2 separate regions of the Homo sapiens genome follow, and region 2 is linked to region 1. The links come from fine-mapping of genetic effects on gene expression. A gene starts in region 1. The other region holds a variant in brackets. All regions are shown on one strand. Distances are from middle to middle. Region 1 holds the start of CASP1 (caspase 1). Region 2 overlaps LOC105369468 (a long non-coding RNA gene).

Evidence for each region. PIP is the estimated chance that this variant, and not a neighbour inherited with it, causes the effect.
Region 2: its variant is fine-mapped to the expression of CASP1 in whole blood (INTERVAL, PIP 0.98).

What each region holds. Positions count from the first base shown.
Region 1 is chr11:105,032,467-105,037,802 of GRCh38, reverse strand. CASP1 (caspase 1) reads left to right here and starts at 2,659. Exons shown (of 9, transcript NM_001257118.3): 1 at 2,659-2,696; 2 at 3,329-3,595; 3 at 4,677-4,739. The coding sequence starts at 2,690. LOC124902742 (a long non-coding RNA gene) reads right to left here. Exons shown (of 3, transcript XR_007062869.1): 3 at 2,122-2,162. RefSeq lists an enhancer at 2,531-2,580.
Region 2 is chr11:105,178,799-105,184,185 of GRCh38, reverse strand. The region is part of intron 4 of LOC105369468 (a long non-coding RNA gene); the gene reads left to right. LOC105369469 (a long non-coding RNA gene) reads right to left here. Exons shown (of 5, transcript XR_007062872.1): 3 at 665-816; 4 at 263-413. Among named protein-coding and RNA genes, the nearest start is that of CARD18, 42 kb to the right of the region's middle. The variant T/C (reference allele first, on the strand shown) is at 2,409.

The DNA.
Region 1 (5,336 bases):
GCCCCAGTGAGGACTCTGTGTGGGAGCTCACACCCCACATTTCCCTTCTGCATTGCCCTAGTAGAAGTTCTTCATGAGGGTCCCACCCCTGCAGCAAACTTCTGCCTGGACATACAAGCATTTCCATACATCCTCTGAAATCTAGACAGAGGTTCCCAAACCTCAATTCTTGACTTCTGTGCCCCTACAGGCTCCACACCACATGGAAGCTGCCAAGGCTTGGGGCTTGCACCCTTTGAAGTCACAGCCCAAGCTATTTCTTGGCCCCTTTTAGCCATGGCTTCAGTGGCCCGGGAAGAAGGGCACTAAGCCTTTAGGCTGCATACAGCAGAAGGGCCCTCGGCTTACCTCATGAAAACATTTTTTTCCCTCTTAGGTCTCCAGTCCTGTGATAGGAGGGGCTGCCTGGAAGGTCTCTGACATACTCTGGAGACATATTCCCCATTGTCTTGGAGATTAATGTCTTAGAGATTAACATTTGGCTCCTCGTTACTTCTGCAAATTTCTACAGTTGGCTTGAATTTCTCCTTAGAAAGTGGGTTTTGCTTTCCCAGCACATCATCTGGCTGCGAATGTTTCAAACTTTTATGCTCTGCTTCCCTTTTAAACATAAGTTCCAATTCCAAACCATATCTTTGCAAATACATAAAAATGAATGCTTTTAACAGCACCCAAATCACTTCTGGAATGCTTTGCTGCTTAGAAATTTCTTCTGCCAGATGCCCTAAATCATCTCTCTCAAGTTCAAAGTTCCACAGATCTCTAGGGCAGGGGCAAGATGCCACCACTCTCTTCACTAAAACGCAGCAACAGTCACTTTTATTCCACTTCCCAACAAGTTCCTATCTTCATTCGAGATGAGCAGCATTTAGTCAAAGCCATTCAACAAGTCTCTAGAAAGTTCCAGATTCTATTTTCCTATCTTTCTCTAAGCCCTAAGAACTGTTCCAACCTCTGCATTTTACCCAGTTCCAACATCGCTTCCACATTTTTGGAGATCTTTACAGCAGCACTCCATTACTCAGTATAAATTTACTGCATTAGTCATTTCTCACACTGCTAATAAAGACATACTCAAGGCTGGGTAATTATATAGAACAAAAAAGATATTTAATAGACTCACAGTTCCACATGGCTGGGGAGGCCTCAGAATCATAGCAAAAGGCAAAAGAGGAGCAAGGACACGTCTTACATGGGTGCAGGCAAGAGGGTATGAGCAGAGGAATTCCCTTTTATAAAACCATCGGATCTCATGAGACATTCATTATCAAGAGAACAGCATGGAAAAAAAACAGCACCCATGATTCAATTACATCCCACCAGATACCTCCCATAACACATGAGGATTATTACAATTCAAGGTGAGATTTGAGTAGGGAAACAGAGACAGACCATATCACCAGCCTTCATGTTTGTCTTTCCCTCTTGAATGTGAGACCAAAGGGGAAAGGACCATGATATGTTTTGACTGAACCTCTGGCACCTAGAGCAATGTCGTCCGTATATGTTTGCTAAATGAATGACTAGATGCACTGCTTGAGGATTCTAACAAAAGATAAACTTAGCTAAATAATCTGCAAATAATCATCCTTGATTATTTTTCTAACCTTAAACATTTGTATTAATTATAATAATATCACTCATTATTTGCTTACCATTTGCCAGGCTATGTTCCATGCATTTTCCACATTTTCTCTCACTTAATGCTCAAAACTGTGTAGGTACATACTATTAATAAAATTATTTCACATACAGAGGAACCAATGCATAGGGAAGTTCATTATCTTGCCAAGGAAGGGAAGTTTAAAATGCTAAGTTCGACATTCTCATTCCAGAGCCTATGCTCTGGGCCTCTACAATGCAATTTCCCTCAAAAATAAACCCTCCAGGATGGGTGGGTGGCTCATGCCTGTAATCCTAGCAATTTGGGAGACCAAGGTGGGCACATTGCTTGAGCCTGGGAGCTGAAGACAAGCCTAGGAAACACAAGGAGACCCTGTCTTTACAAGAGATACAAATATTAGCTGGCCATGGTGGCATGTGCCAGTAATTGCAGCTACTCGGGAGGCTGAGTTGGAAGAATCATCTGAGCCTGGGAAGTGGAGGCTGCAGTGAGCCAAGGTCAAATAACTGCATTCCGGCCTGCACGACAGAATGATACCCTGTATCAGAAAAAAAAAAAAACAGAAAGAAAAAAGCAATGTGAAAAGAAGGACATTAAATAAGAAAAGCTTTAATTCTGGTGAAAAATGTTTCTATTTCTTAAAGCAAAAATGTTTCACAGGGACATACATTACCCACAACTTTCCCAAGAGCTATGAGGTGGGGTCAGGGGAACAGTGGTTCACATACTCCAAAGGTTGTGTTACTTTTCTCCGTCAAGCTTTCTAATGATTGAGAAACTCTTCACTGTGTGAATTTAATTGTACACATACTTTTTCAATCCTGTCTTACTCTCCAAGCCCCATTCCCCTCCTACCCTGATCTATCCAAGGGCTGGTGAAGAAAATTTCCCATGGATACACTACCTGATGCAGGCTACAGTTCTGATTCTTTAATGGGAAGAAAAATAAAGACATGCATATGCATGCACAGTGAGTATTTCCCAATACATGTACAGGCCCTGCCAAAAAGGAAGGCGAAGCATACTTTCAGTTTCAGTCACACAAGAAGGGAGGAGAGAAAAGCCATGGCCGGTGAGTCTTTTACTGTTCCAAGAACAGGTCCCTGGGAAGAAAGAGTTTTGGAAGGGGCTGGCTCTTCTGGAAGCCATAATTAGCATCTGTGGAAGTTTACTTGAGTAGAAGCAAGGAAAAGGGGGGAGAGGGAGGAGAGAAGGAACTAGAAGATTCTTGCAGACTTTAGAAAGGAAAGGCAAGCCCAGAAAGGAACTGAGGCTTTAGGGGAAGCCTGATGTCATTTTGCAATCTTAATTAAACTCTTACTTACATGTTGAAAGTCTGACAGAGGGTACAGAATTGGCACAGGAGGAGTACTAGCAGCAGTGGTTCCTAAATGAAATGGGCTATTTCTGCTTCATTACTTTATTAACCAGAGTTAAATAAACATGCGACATAAGAGGATGATCTCTGCTTTCCAGGGACTGATGTGGAAATGGTAAACTCAGTCTTCAGGTCACTCCATGCACATGTATGGAGACTATTGAGGGAAACAAGTAGGACAGCAATACAGTAAGAAGAGGGATTACCCAACTGTGAGGAGGGGGACATTTCACTGATGAAATCTAAATGAGGTCACTTTCTGTTGATTACATGAGAGGAATATGAGGCTGTTTTCATGATGTGAGAAATCCTTGTGCTCTAAACAGACAAGGTCCTGAAGGAGAAGAGAAAGCTGTTTATCCGTTCCATGGGTGAAGGTACAATAAATGGCTTACTGGATGAATTATTACAGACAAGGGTGCTGAACAAGGAAGAGATGGAGAAAGTAAAACGTGAAAATGCTACAGTTATGGATAAGACCCGAGCTTTGATTGACTCCGTTATTCCGAAAGGGGCACAGGCATGCCAAATTTGCATCACATACATTTGTGAAGAAGACAGTTACCTGGCAGGGACGCTGGGACTCTCAGCAGGTAAGGGTCAGTGACTTACACTCAAGTTCACCTAGGGCCTGTCTTCGTGCCTAACATTTGATTTCTTTACTAGTCATGTTAATTGGAAGAAAACTTTCTTATTTCTGGCTTCAGGGCCATATTTCTGTAGCAGGGTCCCTATTGCATGTCCCTTGACTCTCCTTTGATTCTTTTCCTTAATCCTCAGTGGCACTCTTCTGATTAAAGCTCATTTCCTGTTCTGAGTATGTGGTAGCTCCTTTACTGAAGCTCTTGAGAACCATCTGAAAAGCTTCATGCTGTGTTTTCCAGTGTTCCTGGCAAGGCAAAATATTTACCTGTGGATTTATTTTTGCTGAGTGCAAGGGGTCTGTAGGCACTTATGTAGTTGTAAAGTCACATGAAGCTTTAAGGTTTATAATCAAATACTTTTTATAACTTTTCTCCAAAATTTTACCCTCCCAAAAGAATAAAATATATTTCAATGATGGCGATACACTCAGAGAACACATTGAACGTATAGAAAAGTGAAGATTTCTAATGGGCTCATTCCTCCAGTTGCCTCCTTGTATTTTCTTTGAGTAAGATCACCTGGTTGCCTGTTACCAGGCTGTGGGTCATGCTGTGAGGCCTGGAAATCCTCCACTTGCAACCCTCCTCAGGCCCAATACAGGGCTCAGGAACTGAGCTGGCCAAATCTCATGACCACTTGGACCTACCACGTGGTGAGGATGAGAGTTCTGGTGGATTCCCAGTCATTGATGTCTGTGGCACTTCCTAAAGCCACTTCAGAGGGAGATGTTCTTTGAAAGCAAAAGCCTTCTGTTCTAAGGGTTAGGGAAAGCTTATGCCTGTCTAAGCAGACATTGCAGATGTTTCTGTTTTCATCTATGTGTAATAAACACGTATTTTTCTACCAATGCCTCTTTCATTTTCTACCTCCCACCACTCTCTAAATTAAAGAACATCTTTAACATTATTTAATGTCAGTCAGTCAGTCAGTGTTATGGGAGAAATTTTTAGTGGGGAGTGTTTTACAGATTGGGGTAAAGTTTTCCAGAGATGATAAGTGACTACTTCAATACCCTTTATCTTTTCATAGATCAAACATCTGGAAATTACCTTAATATGCAAGACTCTCAAGGAGTACTTTCTTCCTTTCCAGGTAATGCTGTTTTTAAAGGAAGAGCATTCTTTGACCCACATCTTCCTTGACATTAATTTTGTAGGATCAAACGTGGGTAAATGGGCTATGGAGAATTCTCATAGATTGGTCATATAATTTTCTTTTTGTAATCTATTCTGCTTTTGTAGAAACTGTTTCCACAGCTTCATTATCCACATTTATATTAAAAATTCTGAATCTGTGTCTCAAATCCTGATTACCCAAATAAGTACCAAACTTCATTATTTAAGCCTACTGAAATATTCACTCCCATCTCCCAGAGACACCTTATTCTAAACTTTCCCAGAGCTGAAAATGCTATACTTCCACACCCTGCTTCTCTTCCGGTTTTGTGTAACTTGGTTATTGGTGCCACCGTCACCAGTTGTTCAAACCAGGAACTTGAAACTCATATGGGACCCTTCCTTCTCATGCACCTCTAACATTCAACCCATGGCCAAGTTTTATGCAGGCTTTTCTCAAATTTGGAACCATCTCTCTATTTCTACTTCTATTATTTTATTAAAGAACCCCTATTCCCATAGTGCACTCTTAAACTTATATCTGAAAGCAATGTAGAGGCTAGGAATGCAAATT
Region 2 (5,387 bases), 150 kb before region 1:
AGATGGATATGGGCAGAAAAAAATCATTAGTATATAGCAGTTTCCATATTCTCTTGTTTTTTTTTTACTTCGTAACTGTCACTAAAGAAGGAATATACATACTGTTAGTTTCCTACTGCTCTCTTAACAAATAGCAATAAACTTGATAGCTTAAAACAACAGAAATTTATTATATTACAGTTCTCAAGGCCAGAAGTCCAAAATCAAGGTGTCAGCAAAGTCATGCTCCCTTTGAAGGCTGTAGGGTAGAATCCTTCCTTACCTCTTCCACATTCTGATGGCTTCAGCCTTTTCAACTTGCGCCTGTGTAACTTCAATCATTGTACCCTTCTTCACATGGGATTCTTCTCTTCTGCTTCATATCTTCTCCTCCTCTGAATTATTCCATCTCAAAATCTTTAGCTTAATTATATCTGCAAAGAAGATTTTTTCTAAACAAGGTCACATTTACATTTTTCAGGGATTAGAATATGAACATACCTTTTGAGGAGGGCCATCATTCAATCCGCTGCTAATCAGGCCAAAAGCACAAGCATATAGCTAGAGGAAAATCTTATCTACTTCTCTGCATCTGGCAACCAAGTTCCTGATTCGTTTCCTTACATGGATAATTCCAATTAGATAAGAAAATCTCAATTAAAAAATATAGTCGACTGCTGCTTACCTTCTTTTTTTCTGAGGCACACAGTGTCTTGATCCTTCTACTTTCTAAATACATCTCTTTGTATCTTTCATGGCTCTCTTTTTGCTTCATTCTTTCCATTTATTTTTCTCATTTTTTCTATCTTTGGTGTATAGACCTTGACTTTACTGTAGCTAGAAGGAAAAGGAAAAATGTTTCGGTTGCATGTATATTATCCACTGCTTCAAATCCAAATCACACTGTAACCAGTTTTTTTAAGCAGGGATAGGGGTTGAGAATGTGCTGTTATGTATGTGCACAGTGAGGCCAAGTAAAAAAATTGAGACTACTAGAGAAATAAATTGACAGACAATAAAATAAGTAAAATGATTTACAACTTATTTGAAAAATATGTGATGAGCTAAAAGGACAGATTTGTGTCAGAGAGAAATTATGTGAATCCTAGAACTGGAGAATAGGGAGAAATGATTGCAAGGAGAATAAAATCAGGATAAATCACTTGACAATACCCTTCCAAAATTATCTGAAGAATTGAGAACTTCACTAATTAATAAGTTTCTACCTTAACTGCTAAATTTATATGTAAATATTTTTCCATTTTCACAAGCATTTATTGAGTGCCTACTGTGCACTAGATACTTTTTAGTGTATTGATTCTGGTATAAATTCAGAAATGCTATTGTGTTGGATCCTAGGTATGCGTGTGGTAACCAAAGTCTGCAAACTCTGTTCCCTGGTTTACACAATAGAGAAAATATAGCATATGATAGAAAAACAAATGTAAACAAGTAAAACAAATAGGCAAACAAGGAATTTTCAACTGAGTTTTGTAAAAGTCAAATTATACTCAATGGACACTATATTTGAATGGTTTAAGATGTTTGGAAATTAGTTAAATGTCAGAACAGTTTTTGTGCACAGGGTGATTTTAATAAAGATTAGAAAACTGTAATAATGCTGCTGAGGATCAATAAATAGACCTTAATATTAGAAAATAATATGGTTGTATTCTCATACTGAAGTATGGAAGAAGAATGTTATGATTAGTATAGACATTTTTTCTTGCCATGGATGTTATGTAAAAACAATTTTTAGAATTTATTGAAGCTATAACAATAGAAAGTATTTCTAAAAAGTTCTTATTCACATTCTAAATTTTCATTAGAGTCATAGGAAGCTTCAGCATAAACCTTAAGATTTTACATTTCAGCTCAAGTAATATGCACATAAAATTTGACATTTTCCAAAGAAGAGGAAAATTTCAGATCAAACGTTGATACATACTTTTTTTCATCATTGCTTTTCTCCATTCCTTAAATTCTTATTCTGGTTTAACGTCATGACAATCTCTCATTTCACTGACATTTCATAAAAAGAACACAAGGATTTTCTAATAAAGGCTTTAGAGATCTCTAATTCTTCTTTGGAAATTGGGCACTTACTTTCTGTGCATTTAAATCACTTCTAAGATAATTATCTCTCCTAGTCTCTACAAACATAAATATAACTGTTCTGCTTTCTAAGTCATGGTTTTCTTTAAGTATACTTGCTATATCTTCACTTTCTGTGCATGAATATCAGATTAGGTCTCATCAAAAGCGATCTTTGTTTGAAAAGTAATTTCAAAGCCAACTAGCATCATAACAACACATTTTAGCTTGCACCTTTCCGTCCTGCTCAGAAAACACAAGGTGATGTTTGTCACTTATATTTAGAGTCAAGTGATCTCCAAGAAGCATACTGGATAAGTTCACATAATGCCAGG[T/C]TCCTGACAAGAGTTTCTTGTTGGTTGGCTTCAGTAGCTCTTGCTCAAGAATTGCAGAAGTACATGTTTCTGTAACACATACTTCCTCAATAACCCTATTAGGTAATCTTAATATCATTTCCCTGTACTCTGGGAGGCTGTGTTTTTGCTAAAAAATCCCTTTGCTTTTTAACTTGAAAAAATAATCAGAATTTATTGACTCTGTGAATATCTTTGAATAGACCACCAAATGATAATAAATCAATAAACAGAAGCACAATCTGTATTTTTGGAAACATGTTTATATCTTAAAATAGGCTAAAAATATTGTAATATTTTAAAAATTTATATATGGCTCATCAGAAGCTCATTATTGCTCATTGTCTGCTAGAGAATATACTTCTTTAGTTCTTTGTAGGATTCAGAGCTATTTCTGGATCTCAGTTATAAGGCACCGGCTGAATCATTCACATTGTCTCTGAAACTTGGGTTGGCTCAAGGCCAAGTTGTTCAGAAGACTTTCTGCTAATCGTATTTTAGTCTTGTCTTTGTAAAAGGCTATGAATTATCTTAATAGAATATCTGTTAAGCAATAGTTTAGTGAGACCTTAGCTTTCACTTTAATAACCCATTGAAAGGAAATATAAGTGTAAAAAAGCAGTCTTTATGAGTGGTTTAGATCATAGACTCTGGACTCAGACAATCCTGATTTCTTTTTTTTTTTTTTTTTTTTTTTTTTGAGACGGAGTCTCGCTCTGTCGCCCAGGCTGGAGTGCAGTGGCGGGATCTCGGCTCACTGCAAGCTCCGCCTCCCGGGTTCACGCCATTCTCCTGCTTCAGCCTCCGGAGTAGCTGGGACTACAGGCGCCCGCCACTACGCCCGGCTCATTTTTTGTATTTTTAGTAGAGACGGGGTTTCACCGTTTTAGCCGGGATGGTCTCGATCTCCTGACCTCGTGATCCGCCCGCCTCGGCCTCCCAAAGTGCTGGGATTACAGGCGTGAGCCACCGCGCCCGGCCGACAATCCTGATTTCTAATTCTCACTCTAGCAATTGGTGGTTATTCAACTTTAATAAACCTGCACAACCTTGCTCACAGATTAATTTTTCCATTTCTACAATGAAGACATGATATCTCATACTCTCACAGTATTATTTTGGCCATGAAACAAGCTCATACTAAAATGCTTAACACATCGTACACATAAATATTAACTAATATTAAAATCTAGTTTATTCAAGAAGAATATTTTGAGAGGAGTTTGCTTTAGTCCTTGACATGACTTTCTGTACACTTCCAGGCAATCAGTAATAATAGATAGATAAATGAAGAAACTAAAGCACAATTATTCAAAAGAGATAAACACAGAACTCCTCTTTGATTAGAAGGATCTTGCCCGCACCTAGAGTAGAAACTTACTTCTTCAGAATAGTTTGTCACAACTATTATCTTGTATTTTTATCATAGATCTTATTTATTTGACTTTTAAAACAAGCATACTTTTAAAATATGTTAGAAGGGGAACAAAACTAGCAGAGCTGGGTGATATGAAAGTGACCTTAAGAGCTAATTGTTTAAAATTTTGCAAGAAAATACATATTATTTTGCAAATATTCCCTGGAATGTGCACTTGACCTATCTTTTCTTCAAACGAAGTTATTCTGGACAGACTGCTAGCATATGATAAATGTGTACTATGAGTAAGTTACTATTGTAGGACTAGCTGAACAAAGACAGAGGACTTTTTTAAAAAAGCAATCAGCTGTTTCTGGGATGTTTCACGGTCCCAAACTGGAAACATCAATTAATATGTTAAAGAGCTAATCTTTATTTCTACTTCTACATAAGTACAGGAGCAATATATCTCTGGAAGTATATAAACCATTTCTCAATAATACATAATTTTATTTTGTTCATATATTTGTGTCCTTCACACTTTGTGAAATTTACCAGCGAATGCATTATCATTCATTTTAATAAGTTTATTCCGCAATTTCAGGGGAACACAGGGCAGCTCTAGTTCTCAATACATAAAAGGAAAGCAAGTGGCCCGCTGGCTGAAAGGTAGCTATGTAAATATTAGCAAGCAGAGTTTAAATGCTTGGCATTTATCCAATTGACCAGAGGATTCTATATCTACACCATTAGAATAATCTTTAGAAGTCATAAGAGGAATCCCCCAAAGTGTCATATCCCTTCCTTTAAAAATACCATGCATGTCACTGAGTGTACCATATGGTATTTATATCACTTTTTAGTTTTATTAGTTTAATCTGAACAGAAAAATATTCTTATGTATATGGGTGCAGCAAATGGTTGAAATGATAGAACTGTGTCTAAGGCAAAGTTATTTTAAAAAAAACATACTTGTAAGCCTGTGCAACCAGATAGAACATTTTATGGCTAAAAGCTTAAAAATATATTTCAGATAGAGAGATCAGTAGAGAGACAAAATATTGATCAGATATCCAGATTATACTAGAAAATTTTATTTATATGCAGAGCTAATTTCCATTCCGTTACAATTAATATTGTTTTAGACATGTATGAAAATAATATATTAATAAATATTTATTAACGTATGCTGGGGAATGAGATAAAAAAATGAATCTGTTCTATAACAATATGCATCTCCAGTTCTAGAAAAGGTTAAGACAAAATTTAAGGCATTGAAAAGAATTAGCTCTTTATCTTCTTTTAATTTTTAGACTGGGTCCAGAATCAAAAATATATTTATGGAACTATCAGGTTGATTTCAAAATTTAATTGGTCTCTAAGATGTTGATCCAATATCTTTTTCACTTTTCACCTAAAAATAATTATTTATTATGTTATATATGTTTAATAGTATAAATCTTTTATTCATATCAGCACCATGGTTAGGCCAGAGAGTTCCCTAGAGGCAGAACGGCTTCAGTTCCCAGACCTCGGCATATAGACTTTTCTTTTGTTCTTAATTTTAGTCCAGGGTAATGGTTGACAACCTTGAAATTCAGAAG